Regions from separate parts of the Homo sapiens genome. Here regions 1 and 3 are each reported to be linked to region 2. The links are microRNA targets in miRTarBase. Many come from high-throughput screens and were not tested one by one. Region 2 holds a microRNA gene; each other region holds the end of a gene's coding sequence.
What was found. The annotated mature microRNA hsa-miR-4252 reads GGCCACUGAGUCAGCACCA and lies in region 2 at 6,023-6,041, shown strand. An mRNA with a match to its seed (bases 2 to 7 or 8) in the 3' UTR can be bound and repressed. Matches are read on the target gene's strand: a 7mer-m8 pairs with bases 2 to 8, a 7mer-A1 pairs with bases 2 to 7 and ends in A, and an 8mer does both.

Region 1 (10,770 bases), not on the chromosome of region 2:
TGGTAATGTGAACAAACATTTTATGCAGGTTGCTAGTGTATCATCAGTTTTCTTGAAAAACAACAAAATATTTGATTTTAAAAATGAAACCATGCATTTTCATTTTATTGAAATTCTTGTTTCCATAGCAGTTCATCACACAAGCCATACAATGAATTTCCTCACTAGATTCCTTGGATGTGGATGGATTTGACCTTATTCTTACAAGGTTTTAGCCCTTCAAAAGTTTCCAGTCTCAGGCACAGGTCTTAGGTCCTACTTTACTCTAGAGCCTTAGTTTTAATTCTCTACTGTCCCAGACCTTTGAATTGGCCAAAGAATAACCTTCTCTAATTCCTGGGATGAATTCCTGCTCTGCAGTGCAGTCCATGGCTTCCAAGCATGCTCTTCAGCCTAGCTTCTGCTCGCTTTCGGCCCTAGTGGCATTTCTTCACTTTGTTGTAAGCTCAGCTTGAAAAAAGTTGTTGCTTCTTCTCTGCAAAATGGTGATGGTGATGATAACAATATCAGTTCCATAGAGTTAATGTATGTAAAGCACTTGGAATAGTACCTAACAAATCATTACCACCATAAAATGTTTGATGATATTATTTATTTTTATCCAATGTCTCCATGTATTTGTGAGAGAGGTTCTTCAGAATTTCAAGTCCAGTATATGACTGGATATGGAAGTATGTTTATAAAGTTAACAGTACATGTTATAGGTAATTTTATATTTAAAAAATGTGTTTGGGTAGGCAATTTGCCATTGCACTACACTTATGTACCTGTACCTCCCTGAAGCCACATAAAGAACATGTATTTATCTTAGAAAAATGTGGTGCACATTTATAAATACAATTGACCCTTAAACAATGTTGGGGGTAGGGGTGCCAATCCCTTACACAGTCAAAAATCTGCATATAGCTTTGGGCCTCCCAAAAACTTAACTAGTAATAGTCTATTTTTGACCAGAAGCCTTACCAATAACATAAACTGTCAATAACATATTTTATATGTGATATTTATTACATACTTATATTCTTACAATAAAGTAAGCTAGAGAAAAGAAAATGCTATTATGAAAATCACAAGGAAGAGAAAATATATTTTCTATTCATTAAGTGGAAGCAGAGCATCATAAAGGTCTTCATTTTCTTTTTTTTTCCTTGTGACAGTTTTGCTCTGTCACCCAGGCTGGAGTGCAATGGCGTGATCTCAGCTTACTGCAACCCCTGCCTCCCTGGTTCAAGCCATTATCTTGCCTCAGCCTCCCAAGCAGCTGGGATTACAGCTGTGTGCCACCAAACCCAGCTAATTTTTGTATTCTTAGTAGAGACAGGGTTTTGCCTGTTGGCCAGGCTGGTCTCAAACTCCTGGCCTCAAGTGATCTGCCTGCCTCAGGCTTCCAAAGTGCTGGGATTACAGGCGTGAGCTGCCATGCCCCACTGAGATTTTTTTTTCTTTGATTCATGTGTTATTTAGAAGTATGTTTTTAATCTCCAAGTATTTGGGGATTTTTCCAGTTATTGCTTTTGAGTATAATTCCGTTGTGGTCTGGGAGCAGGCATGCTATGAGTTCTATTATTTTACATTTGTTAAGGTGTGTTTTAGGGTACAGAATGCAGTCTATCTTGGTGCATGTTGCATGTGAGCTTGAGAAGAATGTGTGCTATTCTGCTATTGGATGAAGTAATCTGGAAATGTCAATTATATCCAGTTTAGTGATGGTGCTGTTGAGTTCAACTATGTGCTTACTGATTTTCTGCCTGCTGGACCTATCCATTTCTGATAGAGGGGTGTTGAAATCTCCACCTATAACAGTGGATTCATCTATTTCTCTTTGCAGTTCTATCAGGTTTTACTTTGTTGTCAGGAACATACACATCGAGAATTACTATGTCTTCAGTAGGAACTGACTCCTGACCCCTTCATCCTTATGTAATAGCTCCCTTCATCCCTGATAACTTTCCTTGCTCTGAACTTAGCTTTGTCTGAGAGCACTATAACTATTCCCACTTTCTTTTTATTTGTGTTAGCACATTAAATCTTTCTCCATTCATATACTTTTTTTTTTTGAGACAGAGTTTCGCTCTTATTGGCTAGGCTGGAGTGCAATGGCACGATCTCGGCTCACTGCAACCTCCGCCTCCCGGGTTCAAGCGATTCTCTGGCCTCAGCCTCCTGAGTAGCTAGGGTTACAGGCACCCGCCACCATGCCCAGCTAATTTTTTGTATTTGTAGTAGAAATAGGGTTTCACCATGAGCCACCGTGCCCGGCAATAACAAAATATTTCTAATTCCCTCATCTTGTCTCTTGTATCTTTGCTGTTATTCATTTATATGTAAGTGTCATTCACTTATATATAAGCATATGTAAGCATATCTATATATAAATATATATACATACATAAGCACACATAAACACACATACATTGTTGGTATTATTATTTTGAACTGTTATCTGTAAGATCAACTAAGAATAAGAAAAATAAGGCCAGGCGTGGTAGCTTACCCCTGTAATCCCAGCATTTTGGGAGGCAGAGGTGGGCAGATCACCTGAGGTCAGGAGTTCGAGACCAGCCTGGCAAACATGGTGAAACCCTGTCTCTACTAAAAATACAAAAATTAGCCAGTTTTGGTGGCAGTCACCTGTAATACCAGCTACTCAGGAGGTTGAGGCAGGGGAATCGCCTGAATCTGGGAGAAGGAGGTTGCAGTGAGCCAAGATCGCGCCATTGCACTCCAGCCTGGGTGACAAGAGGAAAACTCTGTCTCAAAAAAAAAAAAGAAAAAGAAAAGTATTTTACCTTCACTCACTTATTTTCCAATGCCCTTCCTTTTTTTAATGTAGATCTGAGTTTCTAATCTGTATCACTTTCCTTCTTTCTGAGAAACTTCTTTTAAATTTCTTGCATGACAGGTCTACTGGCAACAATGTCCCTCATTTTTTGTCTGAAGAATGTCTTTAGTTATCCTTCACAGGATAATTTTTTTCCTCCTGTTAGAAAGTTATTGAAGGATAATTTTGCAGAGTACTGAATTCTAGATTGGTGACTTTCCTCTTAACAGTTTAAATATTTCACTCCACTCTCTTCTTGCTTGCATGGTTTCTGAGGGGAAGTTGGATGTAATTCTTATTTTTGCTCTTCTATAGGTAAGGTGGTTTATTTCCCTCTGCCTTCTTTCAAATTTTCTTTTCTTTTTTTTTTTTTTGATACAGAGTCTCATGCTGTCACTCAGGCTGGAGTGCAGTGGTGCAATCTTGGCTCCTTGCAACCTCTGCCTCCGGGTTCAAGTGATTCTCGTGTCTCACCCTCAAGTAGTGGGGATTACAGGAACACACCACCGTGCCCAACTAAGTTTTGTATTTTTGATAGAGATGGGGTTTCACCATGTTGGCCAAGCTGGCCAAGCTGATCACCCCTGACCTCAGGTGATCTGTTCGCCTCAGCCTCCCAAAGTGCTGGAATTACAGGCATGTGCCACCACACCCAGCTAATTTTTGTATTTTTAGTAGAAATGTGGTTTTACCATGTTGGCCAGGCTGGGCTCGAACTCCTGACCTCAAGTGATCTGCCTGCCTTGGCCTCCCAAAGTGCTGGGATTACAGGTGTGAGCCACTGCGCCCAGCCAAGATTTTTTATCTTTGATTTTCTGAAGTTTGACTACGATATGCCTAGGTGTCTTTTTTTTTGGCATTTACTATGCTTGCTGTTTTCTGAATTTCTTGAATCTACAGTCTGATGTTTGACATTAACTTGGGGAAATTTTCAGTCTTTATTGCTTCTAATATTTCTTCTGTTAGTTTCTTTCTTATGATTTCCCATGATTCATGTTATGTCTTTTGTAGTTGTCTCTCAGTTCTTGGATTTTGTTTTGTATTTTTTGCCTTTGCTTTTCAGTTTCTAGTGTCATATCCTCAAGCTCAGAGATTATTTCCTCAGCCACATCCAGTCTACTAATAATCCCATCAAAGGCATTCTTCATTTCTATTCCAATGTTGTTAACTTCTAGCATTTCTTTTGATTCTTAGACTTTCCATCTCTCTGCTTACATTACTCATTTGTTCTTGGATGTTGTGTTTCTCCTTTAAAGTCTTGAGCACATTAATCATAGTTTAAAAAAAAATTGGTCTGATTAATTCCAACATTCTTGCAATATCTGAATCTGGTTCTAGTGCTCGTTCTGTCTTTTCAAATTGTTTTTTGTCTTTTCATATGCCTTATAATTCCTTCTTGGTAGTGGACACGATGTGCTGAGAAAGGAAAAAAAAAAAGGTCTTCATTCTCATCTTCACCTGGAGTAGGCTAAGGAGCAGGAGGAGGAGGAGGAGGGGTTGGTTTTGCTGTCTCAAGTGAGGCAGAGGCGGAAGAGGTGACAGGGGAGCCAGGCACACTTGGTATAACTGTCTCCCAGGCTGGAGTGCAGTGGCACCATCTCGGCTCCCTGCAAGCTCCGCCTCCCGGGTTCACGGGTTCACGCCATTCTCCTGCCTCAGCCTCCGGAGCAGCTGGGATTACAGGCGCCCTCCACCACGTCCCGCTAATTTTTTGTATTTTCAGTAGAGACGGGGGTTTCACCGCGTTAGCCAGGATGGTCTCCGTCTCCTGACCTCGTGATCCGCCAGCCTCGGCCTCCCAAAGTGCTGGGATTACAGGCGTGAGCCACCGTACCCGGCCCACACTTGGTATAACTTCAATTGAAAAAAAAATCTACATATAACTGGACCCGTGTAGAACCTATGTTGTTCAAGGGTCAACTGTATATAATTTTTGTGTAAGCATGTGATTCAGCAGTATGAAGTCTAAAATCAGCAAAGGTCACCTTTAGTATATAAAAAAAGCACAAAATAGTTTAAATGAGAAATTTCATTTTTATTGAATAAAAACATTATACAAACATGAAGATATATTCAAATATTTGAATACATTAGTTTTTTTTGTAACTTTATATGCTTCATATAAAAGTACTGAGTTCAAAGCAGTATTATACTTGCTAATCATTACCAAAATTCTGATTTTGCTATACTTTTCATCAGGATTTCTGGGACACCTCCCAACTAAACATATTAAGATTCTAGAAAAATAGGCCGGGCGCGGTGGCTCATGCCTATAATCCTAGCACTTTGGGAGGCTGAGGCAGGCAGATCACCTGAGGTCGGGAGTTCGAGACCAGCCTGACCGACATGGAGAAACTCCATCTTTACTAAAAAATAGAAACTTAGCCAGGCATGGTGGCGCATGCCTGTAATCTCAGCTACTCAGGAGGCTGAGGCAGGAGAATCACTTGAACCCGGGAGGTGGAGGTTGCAGTGAGCCGAGATCGTGCCATTGCACTCCATCCTGTGCAACAAGAGTGAAACTCCGTCTCAAAAAAAAAAAAAAAATTCTAGAAAAATGAAAGATAACAAGTCTCCCAAATAAGAGCAGTTTGAGGGTGAGAAATAGCAGTTCTCTAGGAATGCATAACTAAACCATAGTGTACATTTAAGTTACCAAGTTTTAAAAAATTTTAACAATTCTTGGCCGGGAATGGTGGCTAACGCCTGCAATTCTAGCACTTTGGGAGGCCGAGGCAGACGGATCACCTGAGGTATGGAGTTCGAGACCAGCCTGGCCAACATGGTGGAACCCCGTCTCTACTAAAAGTAGCCAGGTATGGTGGCGGGTGCCTGTAATCCCAGCTACTTGGGAGGCTGAGGCAGAATTGCTTGAACCAAGGAGGCGGAAGTTGCAGTGAGCTGAGATTGAGCCATTGCACTCCAGCCTGGGCGACAGAGCAAGACTCCATCTCAAAAAAAAAAAAAAAAAAAAAAAAAAAAAAGCCAGGCAAGGTGGCTCATACCTGTAATCCCAACACATTGGGAGGCCGAGGTGGGCGGATCATGAGGTCAGGAGGTCAAGACCATCCTGGCTGTTATAACACAGTGAAACCCCGTCTCTAATAAAAATACAAAAAATTAGCCGGGCGTGGTGGTGGGTGCCTGTAGTCCCAGCTACTCGGGAGGCTGAGGCAGGAGAATGGCGTGAACCCGGGAGGCGGAACTTGCAGTGAGCCGAGATCATGCCACTGCACTCCAGCCTGGGCAACAGAGTGAGACTCCATCTCAAAAAAAAAAAAAAAAAAAATTCTTATAGTTCCCTTTCAAAAAGCACACTGACCATATTTTTAAATACATATCTTAAATATCTAAAACAATTTTTTTCTCCATAGCTCCCCCAACCCCCCAAAATCCTAGTGAAACGGATAGCAAGTATGTAGTTTGAGAAGGTGCTGTGGACACTGGCTATATGTGAAATGTTCGGATTGCCACACTTCCTCTGAGTAAAGCAATTACGATGGAAAAGTGGACTACAGCTTATATAATTTTGCTCTTTTGTGAAGGTTGTTATGTGGCATAAAATTGTCCTATAATGTTTAAAGACCTTTTCCTGGCCCTACAATATTAATCATGCTCATTATATAACAGTTGGGAAATACAGAAAAGTACAGAAAAGAAAATAATAACACTAATCTTAACACAGAGATACCTACTGGCAACATTTTGGTGTTTATTTCCTGTCTTTTTCCAAAGCATACAAAAATACAAATATATACATATAAAAATGCAGTTACATTGTTGACAGATTTGATATTTTGCCTTCTTCACTGAATATAATGGTCTTGTGTTGTTCTCCTGTCCCCTTATATACTGTCAGAATTTATATTGCCAAAAAACTCTTTCATTGACTGAATATACCATAATGTAAAATAATTTAGAGTATTTATGATTTTATAGCTTTTAAAGTTATATTTTGTATATTCATTTTTTTTGTATAAAATGTTAAAAGTTATAAAATGGAAGTATATAACATATTTTGACAACTGATGCTTCCCAGCATGCAATTCAACAGGTTCAAGCCCCCTTTATGCTTCCCTAACTCCTCAAAGGCTGGGAAGGGACAGCAGGTTAGACACTGCACGAGGATATTACACCCAGGCATTGAAGGTCACATTCCAGAAGGTCCAGTTGAAAGTGACTGAGTGCATTTTAAGTCACACATGGATAACTGAAGGTCTGTTTGTAAAGTTCACATGCTGAACTCCTACAAGCTGTAAAACAGAGTTGATAGGTTTGTGATCCAACCTATTCCTATCGCGGTGTATAAAATGGATGTTGTTACCTAGAAGAGAATAAGAATAAAAGGCTGAGGCATAGTATTATTCATCAGATTTACTGCTTACTAAAATCAAGGAAGCTTTTCAACCTTTAATTAGTCCAAAGGGAAAAATTAATTACCTGGAGTGCATTATATTCTCTATATAATGCCATAATAATTTTAAATCATGGTAATAAAGTATGACAAGGATTATGGTTAAATAAGAGCCATACTTGATGTTTTATGAGATCCAAGGGGAAAGATTTTTAAATTATAACCTTCTGTTAGGTTTTATTAAATATAATTAAATAAAATGTCCTGTCAGACGGGCAGAATACGGAACTCACATAGATATCAAGCTGGAAAATCACATCTGTTTCTTAAATCTAATAATAGAATAAATATAATAAGGAAATAAATCACTCACTTCAAAAAATCCACTCCGAAATACTGATTTAACAGGCTATCTGTATTATAACCATAGCCCAAAAGAGGCTCTAAAATAAGGCCTTAAAAGACAATCAGTTATAATACACTTAGATGTTCACAATCCTTACATCTGTTCAAATACAGATTTTATAATTTATAATCATAAATTTACAATCTAGTTTCTGTTTGATTCTTGAACTCAAGACCAGAATTTTAACTTAAACCATTAGATTAAGTGTATGAGGCACGTTTTCATTTTTTTTTTTTTTTTTTGAGACGGAGGCTCGCTTTGTCGCCAGGCTGGAGTGCAGTGGCATGATCTCGGCTCACTGCAACCTCCGCCTTCTGGGTTCAAGCGATTCTCTTGCCTCAGCCTCCCGAGTAGCTGGGACTACAGGCTTGCACCACCACGCCCAGCTAATTTTTGTATTTTGAGTAGAGACGGGGTTTCACCAGATGGCCAGGATGGTCTTGATCTCCTGATCTTGTGATCCGCCCACCTCGGCCTCCCAAAGTGCTGGGATTACAGGTGTAAGCCACTGCACCCGGCCATGAGGCATGTTTTCTAAGCACAGCTGGTCTTCTGCATCCATGAGTTCCGCATCCTCATTCAACAAACCACGGATTGAAAATATTCAGAAAAAAAGGATAGCTGCATATCTGCTGAATATGTACAGACATTTTTTTTTCCTGGTCATTATTCCCTAAATAGTACAGTACAACAACTATTTACATTGCATTTGGTATTATAAGTAAACTAGAGATGATTTAAAGTGCAGGGGAGGACGTGCATAGGTTAGATCCAAATACTACAGCATTTTATGTGAGACACTTGAGCATCTCAGATTCTGGGATCCACTGCAGGTCCAGGAACCAATCCGCCATGGATGCTGAGGGATGACTGAATGGTCCCAAGTTGGCACACAAATGATGCTCTCCATGTGCTCTTTCTTCTTTACTTATTTATTTTTGGGGGCAGTGTCTTGGTCTCTCGCCCAGGCTGTAGTGCAGTGGTGTGATTTTGGCTCACTGCCAACCTCCACTTCCCAGGTTCAAGCGATTATCCTGCCTCAGCCTCCCTAGTAGCTGGAACTACAGGTGCATGCCACCATACCCGGCTAATTTTTTATATTTTTAGTAGAGATGGGGTTTCACCGTGTTAGTCAGGATTGTCTCGATCTCCCGACCTTGTGATCTGCTCACCTTGGGCTCCCAAAGTGTTGGGATTACAGGTGTGAGCCACTGCGCCCAGCCCATGTACTCTTTATTCTTACACAACAGAAGATGTGGACAAATGATTCAGAGACATGGAGATAAGGGACTCAAAAACATCCCCTTTTGGGTATGAGGATGGAAATAAGTTGTTCAGAAATATGGCTAATGTCATTCTGGGCTAATGCATAGGATTCATTCTCATTCATCAGGGCTTCTTTTTATAACGAATCTGTTATAAATTCATGAGAGGGAGGCAAAGGGAGATTTTGGCTACAATGTTCCAGCTGCAAAAAGCCCAAAAATCATATTACTCAGTCAAAACCCTCCTTCTAAAAAATATGGTATTGGCTGGGTGTGGTGGCTCACACCTGTAATCCCAGCACTTTGGGAGGCAGAGGTGGGCAGATCACGAAGTCAAGTAATTGAGACCATTCTGGCCAACCTGGTGAAACCTTGCCTCTACTAAAAATACAAAAATTAGCTGGGTGTGGTGGCAGGCGCCTGTAGTCCCAGCTACTAGGGAGACTGAGGCAGGAAAATCGCTTGATCCCGGGAGGCGGAGGTTGTAGTGAGCCGAGATTACACCACTGCACTCCAGCCTGGTGACAGAGCAAGGCTCTGTCTCAAAAAAAAAAAAAAAAAAAGGTATTTATCAAAGTAAATATTACTCATATAACTCTTATAAGCTATGCTCATTAAGCAGACAGTTTTAAAGAGGAAGAAAAAACAAAAAGATGGTCTTACAACATAGTGATTTAGGCTTTTGGGCCCTGTCTGATAAGGGTGTTTGTCCTTTGTTGCAATGCTGGAACACAGTAGAGATCTAATCAGTTACAATACACTTAGATGTCCACAATCCCTACATCTGTTCAAATACATCTGTTCAAACACTTAGCAGAGACGAGCCAAAGCAATCTCAGGTGGTCCACACCCATCAATAAAGTTAACAGTGTGTGGCTTATAGTCGGACCTCAATCCCATTCTTTTTTATTTTTTGAGAGGGAGTTTCCTTCTTGTCACCCAGGCTGGAGTGCAGTGGCACGATCTGGGCTCACTGCAACCTCCGCCTCCCAGGTTCAAGTGATTCTCCTGCCTTAGCCTCCCAAGTAGGTGGGATTACAAGCATGCACCACCACGCCCGGCTAATTTTTTGTACTTTTAGTAGAGATGGGGTTTCACCAAGGGCTGGTCTGGAACTCCTGGCCTCAAGTGATCCACCAGTCTCAGCCTCCCAAAATGCTGGGATTATAGGTGTGAGCCACCATGCCCGGCCTCAATCCCAATCTTATGGGATGAGCTGTCCCTAGCACTGACTAACTTGCTGACACTGAGTAAGTCTCCTAGTTTTGTTAGGTATAAATAACTACATGGATTCTTTTTTTTTTTTTTTTTTTTTTTTTTTTTTTTTTTGAGGCAGAGTCTCACTCTCTCACCCAGGCTGGAGGGCTGGAGTTCAGTGGTGCGATCTCGGCGCACTGCAAGCTCCGCCTCCCAGGTTCACGCCAGTCTCCTGCCTCAGCCTCCCGAGTAGCTGGGACTACAGGCACCCGCCACCACGTCCGGCTAATTTTTTTTTGTATTTTTAGTAGAGACGGGGTTTCACCGTGTTAGCCAGGATGGTCTTGATCTCCTGACCTCGTGATCCGCCCGCCTTGGCCTCCCAAAGTGCTGGGATTACAGGCGTAAACCACCGCGCCCGGCTGGATTCTTTTCTTGAAAAAAAAGGCACGTGACGATTTTCCCCTATTCAGAAATGTTCATCTCCACTGAACATTCCTAAATAGCGGAGTGTGTGACAGCCATATACAGATCGCCAGCCCACAGGTGACTGTGGGAAATCATCTAGGCATGGGATGATGGGCACGCTCATCAAATACATAAACATCAAAATATACAGAAGCCTTTGAAAACAAAAGATGCCCCCCTACAAAAGCACAGCATCCTGGCTGTAATGCCAAGATGTCCATTTGTACAGGGTGTCTGCTTTATGAAGAAAATGGTGGCC
Region 2 (10,770 bases):
GTGCCTGAGAAGTGCTGGCAGAGCCCTGAGCACAGGCCTGGTGCCTGGTGCACAGCCATTGCTGAACTTTAGGATCCTTCCCTGTACCTGGGAGGACCAGCCACCAGGAGGGTCTATGGCTGGCCTGGAGTGTCCAGGTCCTGCCAAGTATGGGCCAGGCTGGGCACCATTTCTGTTGTGGGGAACACTACCTAGAGGGGAGAGGATGGGTCTTTGGGGAGACCTCTGACTCCCAGACCCCTGCCAGCTCTAGCCCCGACCACAGTGACAGCTGCAGAAAAGTGCTCCCAGACCAAGCCCTTGCCCTTTGCCCCGGCTTTGACCCAAACCCTCTTTGTAGGTCAGAGGCGCCCTGGCGATGATCATATAAATCATGATTTGTTTTCTTTCTCCTGGGAACAAAGATGCTATGGATGAACTGTAACTATTCATCAAGTCACCTCTGATTACACAAAAGAAACATGGGTCGCCCGTGTGGGCTGTGGGAATCTCCGGCGGAGACTGGTGCCAGCTGACTGCCAGCGCCGCCGCAGGGAGTGAGCTGCCCATGGGGCCAGACCCGGGCTGAAGAATGATTCCCGCAGCCCTCCCCACTGCCAGTCATGCCTCCCCAGAGGGAGGCCAGGAAGAGGCTCTCCATCCGAGGATCAGTCCAGCTGCGGCCTGTGACTGCTTTGAATTGAAATTCACCGAGCCTATGGTGGCTCTATGGCTCTCGGTGTCCTCCAGTCAAACTTCCCGGCCTATGTTAAAAGATTCCCGAGTAGGCCTGGCCCAGGGAAGAAATGCAGCCCTGATTTGAGAAAGGTTCTACACCCCAGGCCGTCAGCTAGCATGGAATAGTTCCAGAAGCCTACAGTTGCCTGCAACTCTCCCAGCCTCCCAGGTCTTCCTCCTGGCCCCTAATTAGGCCACATTTGACCCCACCTGAGGCCTCTACACCTCCCCGCATCACTGCCAGTTCCATCAAGGCAGGGCTGCGAGGCCCACCCTCTTTTCATTAGGGTCTCAGCTCTCCTCTCCTCAAAGACACCTGGCTTCCCTGACCCCTCAATTTCAAGAACCATCCCCATCGCTTCCTACCAAACTGCTCATTTCACTACACAGCACTTGTCACTCCTGAATTATCTTGTTCTCCTATTCCTCAGACCCATACACACATGGATAGAAGAATGTATGGCTGACGTGATGACGGGCCGGGCAGTTGGGTGCACCCAGTTGCTTTTTGTTGAATGAATAAATATGAGAAGGGACATCCAGGCCAGGAGTAGGGGATCTCTCTTCACTCATGGCCTCAGGCTGGTAGGGCAGGTTAGGTCCACTTGCCAGACAGGCTTGGGAATGCTCAGAGGGGAGTTTTGTCTAGGGTCACATGCAATGAGCTATAGGCAGAGTGGACAAGTCCCTGGGATTCCATACCCCACTCATTCAGCAGACGTTTACTGGAGTCAGGCTCTGGGCATACAGAGCCGGGAAGACAAAGCCCCTGGCCTCATTAGTCAGGGACAGATGGGATGAAAACACACATCTGTCTGTGTGATGAAGGGCCTGGCTGGAAATTCGGGCATGCAGGGAGTGAAGAGATGGAATGTGTCTCAGGGGTTTCTCCTAGGGGTTAGCTTTTGGTTGTCACGCAGGATGCACACAGAACGCAAAGCCAGGCAACCATAGGGCAGCTGGGAGGCCAGGTGCAGTGGCTCATGCCTGTAATCCCAGCACTTTGGGAGGCCGAGGCGGGCGGATCACCTGAGTTCAGGAGTTGGAGACCAGCCTGGCCAACATGGTGAAACCCCATTTCTACTAATAATACAAAAATTAGCCGGGTGTGGTGCCATATGCACCTATAATCCCAGCTACTCGGTAGGCTAAGGCAGGAGAATCACCTGAACCTGGGAGGTGGAGGTTGCAGTGAGCCGTGCCACTGCACTCCAGCCTGGGCGATAGAGCGAGACTCAAGTCTCAAAGAAAAAGGGCAGCAGGGAACAAGGCCAGTGGGAGAGTGAGTGGGCATCATGGGTGCGGTTGACAATTTCAGCAAGGCTCAGGGTTGGCCTTGCTGAGGTGAGGTCTGGGCAAAGACTTGGAGGAAGGCAGGGTGCAGGCGGGTATCTCTGATCCCTGCAGAGGGATCAGCCTCTGTGAAGGCAGGGGCGCTGGCCTGTTGGATGGGACCACAGCCCGGAGGAGGGATGGCCTCTGGGCCATTGTAAGGAAGTGAGCAGCCTTCCCTGTCAGTGGTCAGAAGCCTGTGATGGGACTTGTTCTTTTTTTTTTTTTTGAAATGGATTCTTGCTCTGTTGCCCAGGCTGGAATGCAGTGGCACAATCTTAGCTCACTGCAACCGCTGCCTCCTGCGTTCAAGTGATTCTCATGCCTCAGCCTCCCAAGTAGCTGGGACTACAGGCAGGAACCACCACACCCGGCTAACTTTTTTTCCTCCTGAGATGGAGTCTTGCTCTGTCGCCCAGGCTGGAGTGCAGCAGCACGATCTTAGTTCACTGCAACCTCCGCCTTCCAGGTTCAAGCAATTCTCCTGCCTCAGCCTCCTAAGTAGCTGGGATTACAGACACCCACCACCATGCCCGGCTAATTTTTGTATTTTTTAGTAGAGATGGGGTTTCACCGTATCGGCCGGGCTGGCCTCAAATTCCTGACCTCGTGATCCGCCCGCCTCAGCTTCCCAAAGTGCTGGGATTACAGGCATGAGCCACTGCACCAGACCAGGACTTGCACTGTCTTTTCTTTTCTTTTTTCTTTTTTTTTGAGATGGAGTCTCACTCTGTTGCCCAGGCTGGAGTGCAGTGGTGCGATCTTGGCTCACTGCAACCTCCGCTTCCCTGGTTCCAGCAATTCTCCTGCCTCAGCCTCCCGAGTAGCTGGGACTACAGGCACGTGCCACCACACCCAGCTAATTTCTGTATTTTTTAGTAGAGACGGGGTTTCTTCATGTTGGCCAGGCTGGTCTTGAACTCCTGACCTCGTGTTCCACCCGCCTCAGCCTCCCAAAGTGCTGGGATTACAGGTGTGAGCCACCGCACCCAGCAGGACTTGTGTTTTCAAAGGCTGCGGGTGGACATGGACGGGTGAAGGCCAGGGCCTTTCAGGCTTACTGGGGACTTCCCCTTTTCCGTTCTGTAGTGCACAGCCTCACAGAGCCTGGCTGCTCCCATGGCCCAGCTGAGCCCAAGGGGTTCAGGTAGCCCCCACGTGAGGCAGAAAGGGGGTTTCTCAGAAGCCCTAGGATGCCCCAGCAGTGTGCTGCTTACAGAGCCCCAGGGTCCAAGGCTCAGCTCTCCCCCTTAGAAGGGTAGGGCAGGGGCACTAGCCCCGGTTAGACGACAGCTGGGACCAGGAGCTGCTGGTGGAGACATGAGATGGTCTCCTGCTGTGAGGGGCTGCTCCGGACTCCACCAGGCCCTTCCTTTCCCAGAGCCTCCACGTAGGTCAGGGGGTCAAGGACAGCAGCCACCTCCTCAGTGCGGACACAGGCCCTGCCCCCACGCCCTGCTGCCAGGTGAACTGACAGACACCAAGGGTAGACCTGGAGCTGGTGATCAAAAAGGAATGAGCCCCCACGGCCTGTGGCAGAATCAGGGGCTTAGTGGGGAAAGGGACCACCCCAGGCACAGCCTCCAGCCTTCTAAGGGGGAGAGTTGAGCCCTGGGCCCTGGGGCTCTCTAAGCTGAGAGCTGCTGGTGCTTCCCAAGAAACTCCCTTTCTGTCCCAGGTGGGGGCTGCCTGAACCCCTGGGCCGTGGGAGCAGCCAGGCTCCATGAAGCCTTGCACAAAGGAAGGGAAAAGGGGAAGTCTCCGGTGGACTTGAAAGGCCCTGAGTGATTAGGACCTGGACCAGGAGTGGGAGAGAGACCCAGAGAGGAGGTACAGCCTGCTCAAGGCCACACAGCAAGCCAGTGGTGACCACAGCTGGTGAATCAGCCTCTCTAAAACACCATTTCTGTACCTGTCAGCTCCACGAGGCAGGGAAGCTTGTCTGGTTCACCAGCATATCACTGGCATTTAGAATATTGCCTGGCACATAGAAGATGCTCAATAAACATTAGTTGAATGAGTCCATCTGTAAAATGGGCTGATTACATAGCTACTGCTCGGGGTGGTTGTGTGGCTCAGATGACACTGGGTGGTGCCAGACCCCTAGAAGATACTCAGCACCAGGTTCTTTTTCTTTTCTTTCTTTTCTTTCCTTCCTTTCTTCCTTTCTTTCGTTCGTTCCTTTTTTTTTTTTTTTTTTTTTTTTTGACAGAATCTTGCTCTGTTGCTCAGGCTGGAATGCAATAGCATGATCTGGGCTCACTGCAACCTCCGCCTCCCTGGTTCAAGTGATTCTCCTGCCTCAGCCTCCCAAGTAGCTGGGATTACAGGCATGGGCCACCTGTACAGGCATAGCCCGGCCACATGCCCAGCTAATTTTTGTATTTTTGGTAGAGACGGGGTTTCACCATGTTGGTCAGGCTGGTTTTGAACTCTTGACCTCAGGTGATCCACCTGCCTCGGCCTCCCAAAGTGCTGGGATTACAGGCATGAGCCACCGTACCCAGCCCCAGGTACTTTCCAATCCCATTCCAGTCTAGTCTGGTCGGGGGTAGGGGAGGCTTTCGGGGAAGGAGGCACCTGCTGAAGTTGATAAAATCTCTGGGCTAACTGGTTTTCCAGCTTGCTGTGACTGGCAGCACCCACGAGCCCAGGGGAAGAGCCTGGAGCCTCCTCACTCCCCAGCCTGGAAGCTTAAGCCTCAGGGTCCCAACTGATCCCCAGCTCCCTGACCCCCACAGCCCTGCCCAGCTGCTCAGGCCCTGGGGCAGCCAGAAGCAGGTGTGAGGGGGACAGAGTGAGCTCCTGGGCTCCAGGACCCTCCTGGGAGGATGGCCACCGGCCTTGGGGCCACCTGCTCTTTGCCCCTCCTCACTCTGCCCTGATTAGGGATCTGGACCCCTTGTTCCCCTCCATCAGCCACTGGAGCTCCTGCCGGGAGGGCCAATCCTCCCAACTCAATCTCCCTGAGACCCAGAGCCTGGGACTTGCCCAGCCCGGCTCCTGCCAGCCCCATGCCTCCCAACTGAGAGATGCCTTTTTTTTTTCTTTTTTTTTCCCCCTTGAGACAGAGTTTCACTCTTGTTGCCCAGGCTGGAGTGCAATGGCTCAATCTTGGCTCACCGCAACCTCCGTCTGCCGGGTTCAAGCGATTCTCCTGCCTCAGCCTCCTGAGTAGCTGGGATTACAGGCATGCGCCACCACGCCTGGCTAATTTTGTATGAGAGATCTCTTTTCTACAAGGGCTCAGAGGGAGGGTCCCGCGTGGCAGCAGCCCCTGAGGTCAGTGTGACAAGTCCTCTGCTTCTGGGAAGACTTGGCCCCATGAACGGGACAGACGGGGAGGTGTGGGGGACGTGCAGGACATTCCTGCAATCTCAAGCGCTTTCTGTTATAACACCCCAAGGTATAGACCTGGAATTAGCTGAGCTTCCCCGAGGCTGTCCAGCCTTCCAGCTCCTCTGCAGCGTGTCACTTCCTCGTCCCGTGGCCACCCACAGCCTCCCTGGCAGGATCGAGTTTCCCACCAGCAGGTCCGGGAGCCCTTCCTCCCTCAGTGCTCACCCACGCGCCAGCGAGAGAGCTGAGCCTTGTGAATAATTCACAACGATTCACAGCAGGCCCCAGAGGCTCACAAGAGCATGAAGCTGGGCCACCTGGGTCCCCTGATGGGGCCCTGTGTCCTGGGGCAGCTCAAGCCTCTGCCCTCCCCAGCTCCCAGCCCTCATATCCACAGCCTTGATGAGCAGGAATCCCTACCCCCAAGGTAGGAGGTTAAGTGGGTACCCCAGCCCCCAACCCCAATTCCCAGCTGCCCCTCCTGCGTGAGCCCAGCCTGGCAACCACACAAAGACACCTTCTTATCAGTCGAGTCACATGCTGCTGTGGGGAACGGAGCCCAAGCCCTCTGTCCACCTCCCTGAGATTCATGGTGACTCCTGGGGGGCTGGCAGCTCATCAGTCCAGGCCATCTGGCCACTGAGTCAGCACCAGCGCCCAATCACACACAGCACCTGGCATGGCCTGGGAGGGGGTCAGGGTCCCCCAGCCCCGGAGCCCTGGAGGGCGTTCCACAGCACAGCCAGTCTTCCTAACACCTGGGATCCAGCCCACGGAGGGATCACGGCTTCTCAGTGAGGAAGGCTCAGGGGCTGGCGGTCCCCACCAGCACTTGCAGAAGGTGGGCTCAGCGTCCTCCAGTTCACACTTGGGCCATATTGGTCCCGCCATCAGGGGCACCTGCCCCTCTCAAGACCTGTCCTTCTCCTCTGCTTGAAGTGAGGGGGTGGGACAGGTGCATCAGAATCACCGCCGTGAGGGTGGGGACATGTCCCAGGTGTGGCTCCCACGCCCCAACCTGGAGAGTCTAACTCAGGAATCTGGGACAGCCTCCAAGAGGTGCTGACAGGAGCCAGTTGGAACCCTCTACTCAAGGGTCCCTGGGGCCCTCCTAGTCTAAATCCCACTGACTTTGACATGATCCAAATCCTAGTTTGTTTGGAAGCAGTGAATTCATACCAAAGCTGCTCTCGTCCTGAGGCTGGGTCCACATTCACATTTACATCTCAGGCTCCCACTTAGACTAATGAGGGTCACCCATCAGAGCACCCCACTCCCCGCTCAGACCCCTGTGGCATCTGGCACCCTACCCTCTCAGACAGGCCCTGGGCAGCTTTCCCCAGGATCCCTGCCTCCCCAGGCGCACCTAACACCTGAGTCCCTCCCTCCCTCCCTCCCTCCCCAAGACTCACACATGCCCCCTGCTCTGTGTGACCCCCCACCCCACCCAGGGGAGCTCCCAGCCCACTCCCCAGGAGGTTTGGGATCCCCATGCTTCCCTTGATAGTAGGAACGGGCTGAGGGGCCACAGGAGATAACAAGATGCTCTCTGGATGGCCTCCAGCCAGGGGCTCTGGGGCCAGGAGGTGGGGTGGGGGTCTGGGAGGGGCCTTTCTCCCTTAACTGCTTGGTAACTGATGGGGTTCCCTTTCTGCCTGTTTGACTAGGGCCTAGGAGGCGCTCCTGCCCTTGCTGCCCCCGACTCCATCCTGAACAGTCTTGCAAATGAGCACAGCCTGAGCCAGAGAGAGCCCCTGCGGCAGAAGCAGCCCAAGGGGAACAGGTGACCTTGGCCTGTGTGCCCAGCCTCCCAGGTCCAGCTGTGTGCGGCCGGGCAGCTGAGGATGCTGGGAGCACCTGCTTGCAGGGCTCTGGGGGCAGCCCCAGAAGGGGTTTTCCAGGAGGGGAAAATTTCATGTTGAGTGGGAGCCATTTCTCTGGCCTGGCCCTCTGGCCCCAGGATGGCCACTGGAGGGATCATTGCCCTGGAGTGCCAGAGAGGCGTGGAAAATCCCAGGCATCCCCCAAAGCCCTGGCCCAGCCCACCCAGAGGACCCCTTAAGAGGGGTGATCTTACTCAGGGTAGTGCTCGACGAGAAGCCTCAGGGAGGGGAAGTCTCCTTTGGCGGCAGCGTAGTGGATAGGCAGGGCGCCCATGTCTGTGGCCGCGGTGGGGTCCCCACCGCCATGATGCAAGAGCCAGTTCACCACCTCGGGGTGGCCGAAGCGGGCAGCCAGATGCAAGACTGTGGCACCAGAATTGTCTTTGTCCTGTGGGAGGAGAGCTGGTTCAAGTCCTAAAGCCTGTTGCTGCCCCGCCCCTGGCTTGGGCCACTCCCAGACTCCCACAGGCCTGGAAGGTAGCTCTGTGCTCTCTGTCTTCCCTGGAGGGATTGGCCAGGCCTCATTCAGCAATGTTTTTTTTGGGTCAAGCGGATCCTGGGTTTGAGTCCTGCTTCTGTCCTTGGGCAACTAACTGGCCCTCTCTGAACCGTAGCCAATAGGCAGCACCGTGCAGGGTTTTCAGAGGCTGCAGGTCCTGACTGCGAGCTGCCTACACGACAGGCACCTGGTTGTCACGGCAGGAGACTGGCACCAGGCCCAGGGCCACAGCCCTGACTCCCAGGGACTCAGGGAATGCCTGAAGGAGTGACACAGGGTTACTGGGCTGAGCAGGGCCAGGAAGGGGGGCTGTGGGGCTGTACCAAGCTAGCATCAGGATTGGGGGTCACCCCCTGCATCCAACACTTGCCCCCGATCTCTCCACCCTTCCTCGGTGTCACGTGGGAACAGAGACCTCCACCTTGGTACGCCTCCAGGAACCCAACCTCAGTGCAGAAAACCGGCCCCTCCCCCAGCAGACTCGCCAGTGCCCAGCCACAGGAGCAGCCTGTGTTCTCGCCCCTGTGGAGGTGGAAGTTGCTGGGTACTGGTGGGCGGGTCCGGGGCAGTCAGCCAGGGGTGCTAGGTGCAGGCTAGTGGTGGCCTCTGGGAGGGCTTGGACAAAACTCCCCCCGGGGACCTCAGAGCAGGTGGGGCCAGAGGTCTGGGCCCAGAACTGCTGAATGTGTCATCAGTGCACACCCCATTGTGTGTGTCTGCTGAGAAAGGGGCTGGAGGGGAGTGCTTACAGGACCTGTGCTGGGAGGAGAATTCCCGGGAACATCTAGACACAGAGGCTGCCGCACTTGGCAGAGTGGGTACTGGTTCGGGAACAGAACCACCTCCCAGCACCAAGCACATAGGATGACAGAGGGGTGGGCAGGGTTCTGGGTGCAGGATGCAGTGGACACACTTCACTAGGATCAGGGAGTAAAGCCTCTCTGCCCCGCCTTGCCCAGAGAGAGGGCACTGTGGTTACAGACTGGCAGAGGCGGCAGGAGCTGGCAAGAGACCCCAGGCCTCAGGAAGTCAAATCACGGTGGGAAGAGAACCTCTGAGGCTCCCGTGAGAAATGCAAGGAAAAGAGGGCACGGAGGGAGCTGGGGGCGCCGGGGCCACTAGTAGGGTCTTCAGGCAGCCTGCGGGGTGGGGGCAATTGTCTGGCTGTCCTGCTAAGGAGGCAGGGAGGAAGATGGGGCAGAGAATGTGATGGCCCATAGGAAGCTGAGGACAACACCGAGGCCCCTCCTGTGTGCTAGAAAGCTGGGAGTGGGGGGGCCAGAGACTGGTTCAGTCTGTCCCCTCCGAGCCCAAAGGTCGGGGCTGGCTAGCGGGCACCCAGGCAGAACCATGGTGAAATGTGACCTAAGCCCCAGCTCCTGAGAAAGGCGCTCCCTTCCTATTGGCCTTGGGGACTGTGGGTCTGAAGCTCCAGGGGTCCCACTGGCTCTGGGCCTCTAAGTGGTGGAAACTGTAAGGAGAGGGCCACAGGCCTGTGGGCTCTGGCCTGTGCCTGTCCAGGCTGTCCAGGTGTCCAGGCCCCAGGAGCCTCGTGCGTGGTGGACCACACCCTAAAGCAGCTTATCTCTCTGGGCTGGGCAAGCCCAAGGATCCAGGTCATCCCCCCCACACTTTCTCCCCCCACACCCAAGCCTGCCCAGCCCAGAGGGCAGGAGACGATAAGCTGGGCCCAAGGCCACCTGCTTCTCCCAGCTCCTCTGCACTGGCCAGAGAGGCTTCTGGCCAGGGCTGGACACTGGATCTGGGAGGCATGCCACCGCCCAAAAGAGTGGGCATGGGCCACTTGGCCAGGAAGCCCTGGTAACAGGGCCCACTGAGAGATAGCAGGTGGGCCATCTCCCAGGAAGGGTGGGAAGAGGGGCTTGCTATCTGAAGGCAGAAGGTGGGGTTGGCCTGGCCATCTTTGGGGCATAGTAAGCCAGTTTAGAGTTACCCTGACTCCTCCCCTTCCATCTCCAGGTCACCCAGTGGTCTAAGTGGAAATCGGTTGTGGTTCCTCCCTCCCATGGCTGCCCCCACACCCAGAATTTCATCCAAATCCCTAACCTCGGCCTATGATACTCTCTGGCCTGGCCCTGGCAGCTTTTCCCTTCCTCACCCACTCTGAACATGATGCCTGAGGCTGGCCCTCCGACAGGACAAGAGCGTGCATGCCTCAGGGCTCTGCACTTCTTGTTCCCTGTGCCTGGAACTGTCCCACCGCTGCCTGGCTACCTGCTTCTCAGCAGCCAGGACTCCCCTTGGAGGTCACTGCTCAGAGTGACCAGGTGGGGTCTGGAGGCAGCAAGAATCAGCCTGGGTTGGAGAAGCAGCTGACAGCTTGACAGCACTGATGTCCTGGGGTCAGCCTGGGTTATGGGGAGACCCCCATTTACCACGGCTCATCACCCTTCCCCCACACCCTGGCTGGGACACCTGAATCTCAGCCTCGGGTGGGCTGTGGGACTTTGCCCAGCCTCCTTTCAGATCCGGTCCTGGAGGACACGGGCGTCTGACTCTGCTGCCCAGGCCTCACGTCCCACCCACTTCCAGGACTACAGGATCAGTGCTTTGCTTCTCCCGGTACACACTAGTAACCACAAGCCCCACGGAGGCCCCTCCCTTCTGGCTCCCATCACCCAGGTGCGCTTCCAGGGAGCACCCAGGCTCGCCAGGGCATCTGCCCCAGTACTGGCAAGCCAGGGAGCCCATTCACTTGAGGGCCTCTGGAAGGAGCTCCGTGCAGGGTTCAGCTGGGCCAGGAGGTGCCAAACCCCACCCATCCTTGAGCCCCGGGGGACTCTGGGCCAGGACTCTGTCCTGAGGAGGAAGCCTCAGTGCCCCTGGCGAACCGCGCGGACCCACCTGCACTCTGCAGCCGCCCTGCGACAGCAGCCACTGCAGGCAGGCGAGGTGGCCGGTGGCGGAGGCGTCGTGGGCCGGTGTGGCGCCGTTGCGGGCGCGGGCCGCGGCGGGGAGGGCGGCTTCCTCCACCAGGAA
Region 3 (10,770 bases), not on the chromosome of region 2:
TTGAGACAGAGTCTCTTTCGCCTAGAGTGCAGTGGCGCGATCTTGGCTCACTGCAATCTCTGCCTCCCGGGTTCAAGTGATTCTCCTGCCTCAGCCTCCCAAGTAGCTGGGATTACAGGCGCCTACCACCATGCCTGGCTAATTTTTGTGTTTTTAGTAGAGATGGGGTTTTGCCATGTTGGTCAGGCTGGTCTCGAACTCCTGACCTCAAGCAATCTGCCTGCCTTGGCCTCCCAACGTGCTGGGATTACAGGTGTGAGCCACTGCGCCCAGCCCTAATTTGATTTCTTAAAGACAGAGTGATTTATGTTGTGGTCCTCACTACCTCTGTTTCCAAGTATTCTGAATTTGTGATACATAGAGGGTTTGTGTTGCAGTGCCACTAAAGAAACATGTTACCTTAAAAGTTGTATAATCAAGGCCGGGCGTGGTGGCTCACGTCTGTAATCCCAGCACTTTGGGAGGCCGAGACGCCGAGACGGGCGGATCACAAGGTCAGGAGATCAAGACCATCCTGGCTAACACGGTGAAACCCCGTGTCTACTAAAAATAAAAAAAAAAAATAGCCAGGCTTGGTGGCAGGCGCCTGTAGTCCCAGCTACTTGGGAGGCTGAGGCAGGAGAATGGTGTGAACCCGGGAGGCGGAGCTTGCAGTGAGCCGAGATCCTGTCACTGCACTCCAGCCTGGGCAACAGAGCGAGACTCTGTCTCAAAAAAAAAAAAGTTGTATAATCAAAAGGCTTAACATTTTATCTGATGAGAGTACTGCTGGTAAATTACCCAGAAACCTGTATTTGAAGAATTGCCATATTCTGTCAGAAGTAAGGAGCTATATGGACTGCTTGTTTTGTTTTGTTTTTTTGAGACAGCGTCTTGCTTTATCACCCAGGCTGGAGTGCAGTGGTACCATCTCGGCTCACTGCAACCTTCGCCTCCCAGGTTCAAGCAGTTCTCATCCCTCAGCCACCTAAGTAGCTGGGATTATAGGCATGTGCCACCACACCTGGGCAATTTTTATATTTTTAGTAGAGACAGGGTTTCATCATGTTGGCCAGGCTGGTCTCGAACTCCTGATCTCAAGCAATCCACCTGCCTTGGCTTCCCAAAGTGCTGGGATTACAGGTATGAGCCACCACGCTGAGGCTGGACTGCTTTTTAAAAATTTTATTTTAGACAGTGTCTCGCCCTGTCACCCAGGCTGGAGTGCAGTGGCGTAATCACAGCTCACTGCAGCCTTGCCCTCCTGAGCTCAAGTTATCCTCCTACCTCAGTCTCCTGAGTAGCTGGGACTACAGGTGCATGCCACCATGGCCTGCTAATTTTTAAAAAGTTTTTTGAAGAGACCAGGTCTTCCTATGTTGCCCCGGGCTCAAGTGCTTTTCTCACCTCGGCCTCCCAAAGTGCTGGGATTATAGGTATGAGGCGCTGTGCCTGGGCTGGACTGCTTTTTCCTACTCAGCCATATGTGGTTACTTACAATTTACATTAACATTAATTGGCTTTTTCCACCATAGTCCAAATTTGAGTATCTGCTCCAATAAGGTGGTAATTTTTCTTGTCCACATCTCAGGATAATTCTATTTTGTTTTTTATTATTTATTTATTTTGAGACAGGGTCTCACTCTGTTGCCCAGGCTGGAGTGCAGTGGTTCAATCTCAGCTCACTGCAACCTCCACCTCCCAAGCCCAAGTGATCCTCCCACCTCAGCCTCCCAAGTAGCTGGGACCACAAGCATGCACCACCATGCCTAGCTGATTTTTGTATTTTTTGTAGAGATGGGTTTTGCCATGTTGCCCAGGCTGGTCTCAAACTCCTAGGCTCAAGCGATCCACCTGCCTCAGCCTCCCAAAGTGCTGGGATTACAGGCATGAGCTGCTGCACCTGAGCTTCTCAGGATAATTTTAATTTTTTTTTAATTGATTTGGAATCATGCTTAAGGAACCATGTAGCTAGATTTTTTTTTGTTATACTTGGTATTAGAGGCCCTACTGAGATAATTGAAATTTGTAGCTAAATTTTTATTTGCTCGTTGTTCCAATCCACAGTTCTGGCCAGAGGGGTAATGAGTATTTAAACGGACACAAGGTGAGGAGGGTTAAGACCCCTTCACTTAGATGATCTGGAAACTGGATTGACCAACCTGTGTATAATTGACTTGTGCATAATCAATAGAGCTGAATGTAGGTTTTTTTTTTTTTTTTTTTTGAGACGGAGTCTTGCACTGTTGCTCAGGCTAGAGTGCAGTGGCGCGATCTCAGCTCACTGCAAGCTCCGCCTCCCGGGTTCACGCCATTCTCCTGCCTCAGCCTCCCGAGTAGCTGGGACTACAGGCGCCCGCCACCACGCCCGGCTAATTTTTTGTACTTTTAGTAGAGTCGGGGTTTCACCGTGTGAGCCAGGATGGTCTCGATCTCCTGACCTCGTGATCCACCCGCCTCGGCCTCCCAAAGTGCTGGGATTACAGGTGTGAGCCACCGTGCCCGGCCCCTGAATGTAGGTTTGATTGGGTTCACTCACATGCTCATATTCACAAATAAAAATTTTGGAAGCAGATTAATATTATTTATTATTCATCTTTTTAACCTAAGCCCACCATGGTTTACATCTAAATTCTAGCTACAGACATCTGTTTCTGTATAATATATTAGCTATTAATCCATTTACTTACATTTCTTCTTGAAAATATTGAAAGGGTCCTTTTCACCTTGAAACCAAGGTGAGGAGGAAATCAAGTCAACTAAATCCATATAATGACATAAACGTATGTCTGGACAGATTCTTTCACTCTTCCTCTCCTTTTAAGTCTCATATTCTTTCTCTCCAGGAAAGACACAGATGAAGCTGACCTGGTTCTTGCAAAAGAAGCTAATGTGAAATGTCCACAAATTGTGATAGCATTTTATGAAGAGAGACTGACATGGCATGCATATCCTGAGGATGCGGAAAACAAAGAGAAAGAAACAGCAAAGAGCTAAAGGAGGGGATGGTCTCTGTCATTTCTCTTTGTACATAATACATTCACCTCCCTGCCTCCTCTCCTTTCTACCCACCCCTTTCTATCCTAAACACATCCATAAAAAATGTGCTTATCACTGTGCTCCACAGGAGAAATGTTGGTATTGGTTCTCTTGTAACATAACTGATGGTCTGATTAATGATAAGTGTCTCTCTGTGAAGACCAGGCATTTACATACTGAGTGTAATACCCACAATTTTTTTTTCCTTTGCCCTGATCTCTTCCTTCTGCTTCCCTGTGACCTCAAGATGAGTTTCAACTTTTTAATCACCTTAGAGTCTTGATCTTTTCAGGGTTGGTCGCTTTTTAGGTTGGGGGATTTTGTTACAATGATGTTGAATTTTGGTTTCTTGCTTTGGTTCTTAGAACATGTTGCTGACTAGCTGGCCTTTGTTCTGACATGTTGAGATGGAAAGGATGTTGCCCATCTGTTAAAAAGCCAATAGCAACTGCCTACCTGTTGGGGCTTTCCCAACCTTGTTCAGCTCTACCCAGGAGAATACAGGGTTTCTGGTGTGGTCTTCTGGGCCACCCTCTGTTGTTCATCCTCACTCATCCTCCCAGAATTACTCCATCCTTTGGAAGATTTGAAATTTTACACTGAAATCTGTCAAGACACTCTTTTTAGCCCCAGGACTTTCGGTATTGCTTTTAGCACTCCCCACTTCTGCTTCTGTAAAGTGATATCAATTTGTGATAAAATGACAAGATTATTAACTGTGCAGATTTGTAGCTATAGTACATGAGGATGATGGGGTAGGGTACAATTGTCTTTATTATCATATATGGTATGTATGTATGATTTCTTTCCATTCCTCATATTTAGACTGTATATTTATGTAGGTGTGAGTGATTGCCTGGTGCTTGCTTGTGCCAAGGTGCTAGGCACCCTCCAACCCTGCCAACTTTTGTGGCCTCCCAAAGCATTCCTGTTACCAAAGAGGCTTCAAACCTGACCCTCACTTCTCAGTGGACCCGAGTTTCCCTTCCATGCCATTATTTTCAGTGGGGAAGTTTTAGAGGTGAGCTGTTGGCCACAATATCAATTTTAAGTGTTCATAGCAGTTATGTCTCCTGCATTCTTGGCTCCTGGATTTACCACCAAGAGTCCCCAAAATATTAATGCTCTTCCCTTTTTCTACCCTCAAACTTATAGTTGTATCTTATTTTTTAAAATGAATTTTCATGGCCAGGCACAGTGGCTACCGCCTGTAATCCCAGCACTTTGGGAGGCTGAGGCAGGAGAATTGCTTGAAGCCAGAAGTTTGAGACCAGCCTGGGCAATGTAGTGAGACCCCCTGTCTCTAAAAAATATAAATAAAAATAAAGGCATGTTCCTGAAAGACTGTCACCTTGGAAAGTGACAGGCCCTGGCATTAGCATGTTGACACACCCTTTTCTTCTTACTCAGCAAAATACTTCGTTTTGGTTTCTTCTTGTGTTGCTATTGAGAAATTTGTCTGATCATATCCTTCTGCCTTTGTCCCCCAAGAAATGCCCTACTTTATCCTTTTCTTTTTGTAGTTGAGGAGGGCTAGAGAATCACAATTAAAAGTAAGGAAATAGCAGGGTTTTGAGGATCCTTGTCCCAGCCCCAAAGCTGAGGAAATAAGAATAAATGCTTAATATAGCCTTAATTCTAGAGCGCACCAGCCATGAGGCTGCTTTTCTTGTTGTTTTTGATTTTTAAAACATACAGCTGTCTGGCCAGGAGCATCTACCATTTCTAGATTATTCAGAGTAATGAGGGGAATGGATGGATTGCTCCAGTCCACAGATGAGCCACATAATATGCAAATCATATACCCATTCATAGCATTTGTTAACATTGCTTCCCTGCTCAGCTGCTGATTGAATTCTGTGTGCTTATATAAATTATGTCAAAAATTATACTGCATAATTGAGGTGACAGCTGTTGCTGCAGTGACATGACAGACTGGAACAATGAAGCTTTTGGTTTAAGTCAGCCAGGAAAATCCTTCTGAATGGTAATGTGATTGGGCAAGAGCTCATAAACCATACCTCAAGTGGGTGGGAGTTTTATCTCTATATTCCTTCTCTCTCTGAAGGAATTAAAGGCCTAGATCAAGTGCTGGATAATTGACAATTGCTTGTACTTAATCTGATCGGTATCTAAAAGAAGGAAAGGATGGTCAGGAAACATTTATCATAAATGTAGCCAAGGATATCAATTAGGGTAGACAAGAATAGGACAAAAATAGGCCAGAGCTCCTGAGGAGGTGATATGGGTCTCTTGATTTGCAGAAAATGACAGCCTATCCAAGTGGCCCAGTGTATGCCTCCCAGTAGCAGTGGGCATGTAAACTGCAGCGACCTTATTTTTAAAACCAAAAACCTAGTATGTGGACAAAGAACATGACAATATTTGGTACTGAGATTGGTTCTGAGAAACCTGGGGCATGTGGCTGCTGTGGTTATAGGTAATATTTAAGACATTCATAAAAATCTGATATTCTTTTACCGAAATAACCCCAGTATCATCTACTACTTACCATCTGTTAATAGACTTTACTCTGTCTTTTTTGTCTTCGGTTTATTGTACTGAGTGCCGCCAAAACAACTTTTGTTCTCTTCCTGCCTACCTGCAGCTGGTTCTATAGGAATGTAGGGAGCCAGAGGCCAGTATTGATTTCAGCCCTTAGCACAAAGGAAATCAGATGCCTGCTTCCAGCATTTGTTAGTGTTGAGTAGATGTTCTTGCCCTAGAAGAATTACAGCCTCAAACAGAAACCTGTTTCATGGAGCTTTCTCCCCTCAGAAGAGTTAATAGTTAAGAGCTAAGCACTCTTAAACACCTAAGTCTCAAATGCTAAAAATTTATTTTTCTTGTGTTTAGTCCTCTTTCAAGACATCTTTCTAAGCCTTTCAGTAATCAACATTAAAAGATCTCCCTTTCTTCAGAGTTATAGCACAGCTTTGCCCAGTAGAGGCTACCAAGGACAGCTTAGCAGCCCTTTGATTGCTGGGCTGGGCAGATGGCCTTCAAGTTAAGATCAAATGCCGGGAAAATCAGCCTACATGGGAGCACCCATTTTAAACCTGGAGAGAACCATGATGTTTTCTTCTTCAAATAACAATCTAGTTTTTTTTCCCCCAGTACTAAAATTGTATTGTCTTTCAGACAATATAATTTTTATTTAAAATTGGAACATACTATCTTCATGCTTTCTAAGCTAAATCTTCATTTAGATTTCACTCCTCAGTAGATCCCAGAGAAGAAGCTATATAGGATCCAGATTCAAATTTAACAGTGTCTTCTACTTTTTTAGTTATGTTTTCTATCAACTCCTGCTGCCTTTTCAAATACGGATATTTTTCAGGAGACTCTTCTACTTGTCCACTGACTGTATTTTTTCCTTTTTGATCCGTAGCCCTGGTTAAATGGCTGACATCCTTCCGTGGATGATTCTTGGAGGTAGTCTCAGAATTCCAAAGTGATTGTCTGTCTTCTTCTTGTCTTGATCCTAATGCAGACATTCACCTCTATTATTTATTTATTTTTTTTAGACAGAGTCTCGCTCTGTCACCAGGCTGGAGTGCAGTGGCACAATCTTGGCTTACTGTACCCTCCACCTCCTGGGTTCAAGCGATTCTCCTGCCTCAGCCTCTCGAGTAGCTGGGACTACAGGTGTGTGCCACCATGCCCAGCTAATTTTTGTATTTTTGGTAGAGATGGGGTTTTACCATGTTTGCCAGGATGGTCTCGATTTCCTGACCTTGTGATCTGCCCACCTTGGCCTCCCAAAGTGCTGGAATTACAGGCATGAGCCACCGTGCCTGGCCACCTCTATTAAATTTTTGTGGACAAAAATAAAATTGTCATTATTTGTTTGCTCTCATGGAGCACTTTCAGTAATACAATTTTTTTTAAATTCCAGTTGCCCTCTTTGTTGCTCTGTCCTCTGTAATACCTGACTTTGCTAAAGACTTGAGGGGTGGTTTCAGAGGAGGGTCAGGTGATGGGAAGGCAGGATGAGAAAAGCCCTGGACTTGCATGTTTGAGAAGGCTTCCAACCACATCTTCACTCAGACTCTTGGAATTCCTGTCCCCAAAACAAGCTTCTGTTTTTTGCTCACAATGCTATATTTCTAAATTTTTCCTGAATTACTGAGAAGCAGTCATTAGCTTTGTTAAGTTTGGTTTGGGGACATTGTTGGTATCAAAAATCGAAGTCTTATTCATTTGATGTAGGCCATGAATCATCAATAACTGGTTGCTGGAAAGCTTGACTACCATCCACTGGGGTGCTATTTTGAGAAGGATTTTTGGGTATCTTTATAGTCTGCAATTAGTTGATGATTGCTTTCTAGTTTATCAACTGCATTTATATTTGCTTTTCTGTTCATGGAAAATCCTTTATTTGCTGGGGTTTTTTGTTTGTTTGTTTGTTTTTCCCACTTACAGCAAGTAAAAGTGGTCTGAGGTTATCCTTGTTTTTCTTCGCGGTTTGCCATGTGTGAAAGTAGATTTCCTGCTATTGATATATTCTCATTATAGACAGAATAGTGGAGAACAGTGTTGCCATGGACAAAATCCAGTTTTGGTCCACTCTGGGGAGCATTTGGACCTGTGGTGCTTCTAACAATTAAAAGTCTAGATGGTCCTTGACTGTCCCCCAGCCATACTGCATACTACTTTGTGCATTCTACTTTGTGTCATTAATGAAAGATTGGTTCTGTCCCTGTAACTTAGGCATTTATTATTCTTAACTCTTCATTCCTGTTCTGTAGCCACCCAGCAGTCCATTTTCCCTATGTTCAGGCCAAACCACAGGGCATTGGGGAAGGTTTTTGGGATTTTCTTATTGAGATTTTGTTGAATCTGTAGTTTACCCCAGCTTTCCTAAGGTACAGTGAGGGGTTGGAGGGATCTGTGTTTGGCCCGGGGAGCAATTGTCTCTACCTTAAGGTTCAGTTTTGAGGGCATAAAATACTACTTTGCAATGTCATGAGAACACCGTTAGATCTGAAATGTGGAAATGGTTTCTCACAATTTAAAGGAAAAACCCACTTTGCACCCATGATCCCATCATTTTGGTTGAGATTTTAGAATAAAAAATATAGTGTTGAGATCCGTACTTTTGTAATCAGACCACCAAGCATGCCTGTGGCAAGGCAGAGAGGAAAGGTCTGGAGCCAGTGTATTGCAGTTTCATGCTACCTTTACCTGCTAATCATAAAAATTATGTTTTCAAAAGTAGATGATACTAGCCTTACACCCAAAAACATGTTCTGAATTAGATGCCCCCTCACCCAATTTTTATTAAGCTTTCTAAATTCCAGCCACATTGCTGTACATCAACATTGGTTTCATTCAACAGACATTTTTTTGGCCTGAAGATACAAGGTTCAGAAAGAGGCCATCCCTGCCCTCAAATAACTTTCATACTGGTGTATGATGAACTGACCATTAATAGTTTAAGTGCTTACAAGCTATGTTTCTGTTCAAAAAAAAAATAGTTTGGTATAATAAATGCTATAAACCAATACACATTTCTGACTTGGGGGCAGAGACAGACTGGCTGATGTTGTATAGTTTGTAGCCCTGGAGTAAGAAGTTGACATTAATTTCGGCCTATATGTGGAAAAGACCTATAACATTGGGTGAACTGAGCCAGCTGGCCATAGAACACAAGAACATATTCCAGGAAATAAATATAGCTGGAGGGTTGGAAATGCTGTTATTACTGAGAGAGAAAACAGGTGAGTTGGGATTGAGAACTCCTGATTTTCATCCCTGGTTTAGATTCTTGGCCAAAGTAGTGGTAGAGTTAATCTTTGCTTGTGGAAAGCATTAACTATGTTGCAGATTCAGTTGTGTTACATTATTGTGGGTTCTATAACAACATATTCCTCATGGACACTTTACCAGAGTTGCTCACACCTTTTTCAATTTCTCATCCCTTTTGGAGGAATGAACATGAGACTTAACTGCCTTTAAGCCTAAAACGGACATGCTTTCCAATGACAAGAGATTTTCTAAAGAGAAGTCTTGGAGCACATCTGTTAATACCTGAGCATCTACTCTGAGCAGTGCAGTTTTATTCAATACTGGAGAGAGGGTGATTTCTTTTTTTTTGAGACGGAGTCTTGCTCTGTCTCCCAGGCTGGAGTGCAGTGGCGCAATCTCGGCTCACTGCAAGCTCCACCTCCCGGGTTCACGCCATTCTCCTGCCTCAGCCTCCCGAGGAGCTGGGACTACAGGCGCCGGCCACCACGCCCGGCTAATTTTTTGTATTTTTAGTAGAGACGGGGTTTCACCTTGTTAGCCAGGATGGTCTCAATCTCCTGACCTCATGATCCACCCACCTCGGCCTCCCAGAGTGCTGGGATTACAGGCGTGAGCCACCGCCGGGCCGAGAGGGTGATTTCTAAGCAGAGAATTGTATCAGTTATGTGGAAACCTTTGCCAGAAATACATATACCTTGTATATTAAATCTGAGTCTCAGATTTAATCATCGAAGCGTAGCTGGGTTAAGAAACAGTCTGATCGTAAGGATGTTGTCGATTCTGACCCATGGATGACCACAAGAAAAAGATATTTATTTCTGCCTGGATAATTGAGAGTTGACTAACTTTGGAAGTCAGAATTCCCAGGAATTAGAGTAACTGCTCTGGAAAGTTAAAGTGTGAAGTTTTTTAGATAGTTTCATAAAAACAATTCTGGTTTCTTTTTGCTTGTGCTGACTTTCTTGGATTTTAATCTACCTCATCTTGTCTTTTTAGAGTTACTTCAACTTGTCACTTTAACATTGTGCTTGACTTTGGTTGTTTTCTAAGATGGAATTTTTCCTGTTCATTGACAGCTTGTTCTCTTGCCTTTTCATTCTGATCCTCATTTCATCTAACATCATCTCATATTGCTCCTCTGTCAAGAGAAATGTTTTAAAATAGTTTAAAGTCTTGTTTTATGGGAAGAAAGTGATCCTCCAATGCTATTTGTTTCTGAGGTCAGTAAGAGAAGGAGTTAAAACAAGGCAGTGGGGAAGGGAATGAATCCTGCACTGGAGGCAAAAGCTGACAAGGAAAGAGCCATTAATTAAGACAATTTCAAAGTCAACTGATTGTGATCATTAATGTCACAATAGATCAAAACCTAATTATCACAGCCTAGGTAAGAGCCATCAGTATTAATCGGAAAATCTAATAGGAAACTATTATCAAGAAATTAGGCCAAATTGAATGCAGTGAACTTTTTATCTTGGCATTCTCTATTTTTTTGTGATGTCCCCTGGCATTGGCAGGTGTGACCCTAACAGTCGATTCAAGGCCAAGTGGTCAGTTTGTCAGCCTTTTTTAAGGGATTTCTTTTTATTTTTAGGAATTCCAAACAGAGTTAACCTAAACTGTCATTGCCAAAAGATCAGTCTTAAACTTTCTTAGCACCTGTACCTGTTTAATGTGATCAGCTATCAGTGAGGAAAAAAAAAAAAATCTATTTAGGTCTTGGAATGGTTCCTGTACCTAGAGTATCCATATTGAACCTTTTTTTTTTTTTTTTTTTTTTTTTTTTGAGATGGAAACTTGCTCTTTTGCCCAGGCTGGAGTGCAGTGGCGTGATCTTGGCTCACTGCAACCTCCGCCTCCCGGGTTCAAGCAGTTCTCTGCCTCAGCCTCCTGAGCAGCTGGGATTATAGGCGCCTGCCACCATGCCCGGCTAATTTTTGTATTTTTAGTAGAGACAGGGTTCACCATCTTGGCCGTGCTGGTCTTGAACTCCTGACCTTGTGA

Region 1: miRTarBase lists PRXL2C as a target of hsa-miR-4252. Seed matches in the 3' UTR shown: 8mer at 6,047-6,054.
Region 3: miRTarBase lists CBX5 as a target of hsa-miR-4252. Seed matches in the 3' UTR shown: 7mer-m8 at 4,214-4,220, 8mer at 6,578-6,585, 7mer-m8 at 9,154-9,160 and 7mer-m8 at 10,589-10,595.

Annotation. Positions count from the first base shown.
Region 1 is chr9:96,634,742-96,645,511 of GRCh38, forward strand. PRXL2C (peroxiredoxin like 2C) reads right to left here. Exons shown (of 6, transcript NM_153698.2): 6 at 4,836-7,145. The coding sequence ends at 7,018. Among named protein-coding and RNA genes, the nearest start is that of PRXL2C, 15 kb to the right of the region's middle.
Region 2 is chr1:6,425,115-6,435,884 of GRCh38, reverse strand. MIR4252 (microRNA 4252) reads left to right here and starts at 5,989; the gene lies at 5,989-6,051. ESPN (espin) reads right to left here. Exons shown (of 13, transcript NM_031475.3): 1 at 10,636-10,770; 2 at 7,466-7,659. RefSeq lists an enhancer at 7,208-7,327.
Region 3 is chr12:54,233,961-54,244,730 of GRCh38, reverse strand. CBX5 (chromobox 5) reads left to right here. Exons shown (of 5, transcript NM_012117.3): 5 at 2,826-10,770. The coding sequence ends at 2,976. Among named protein-coding and RNA genes, the nearest start is that of MIR3198-2, 7.9 kb to the right of the region's middle.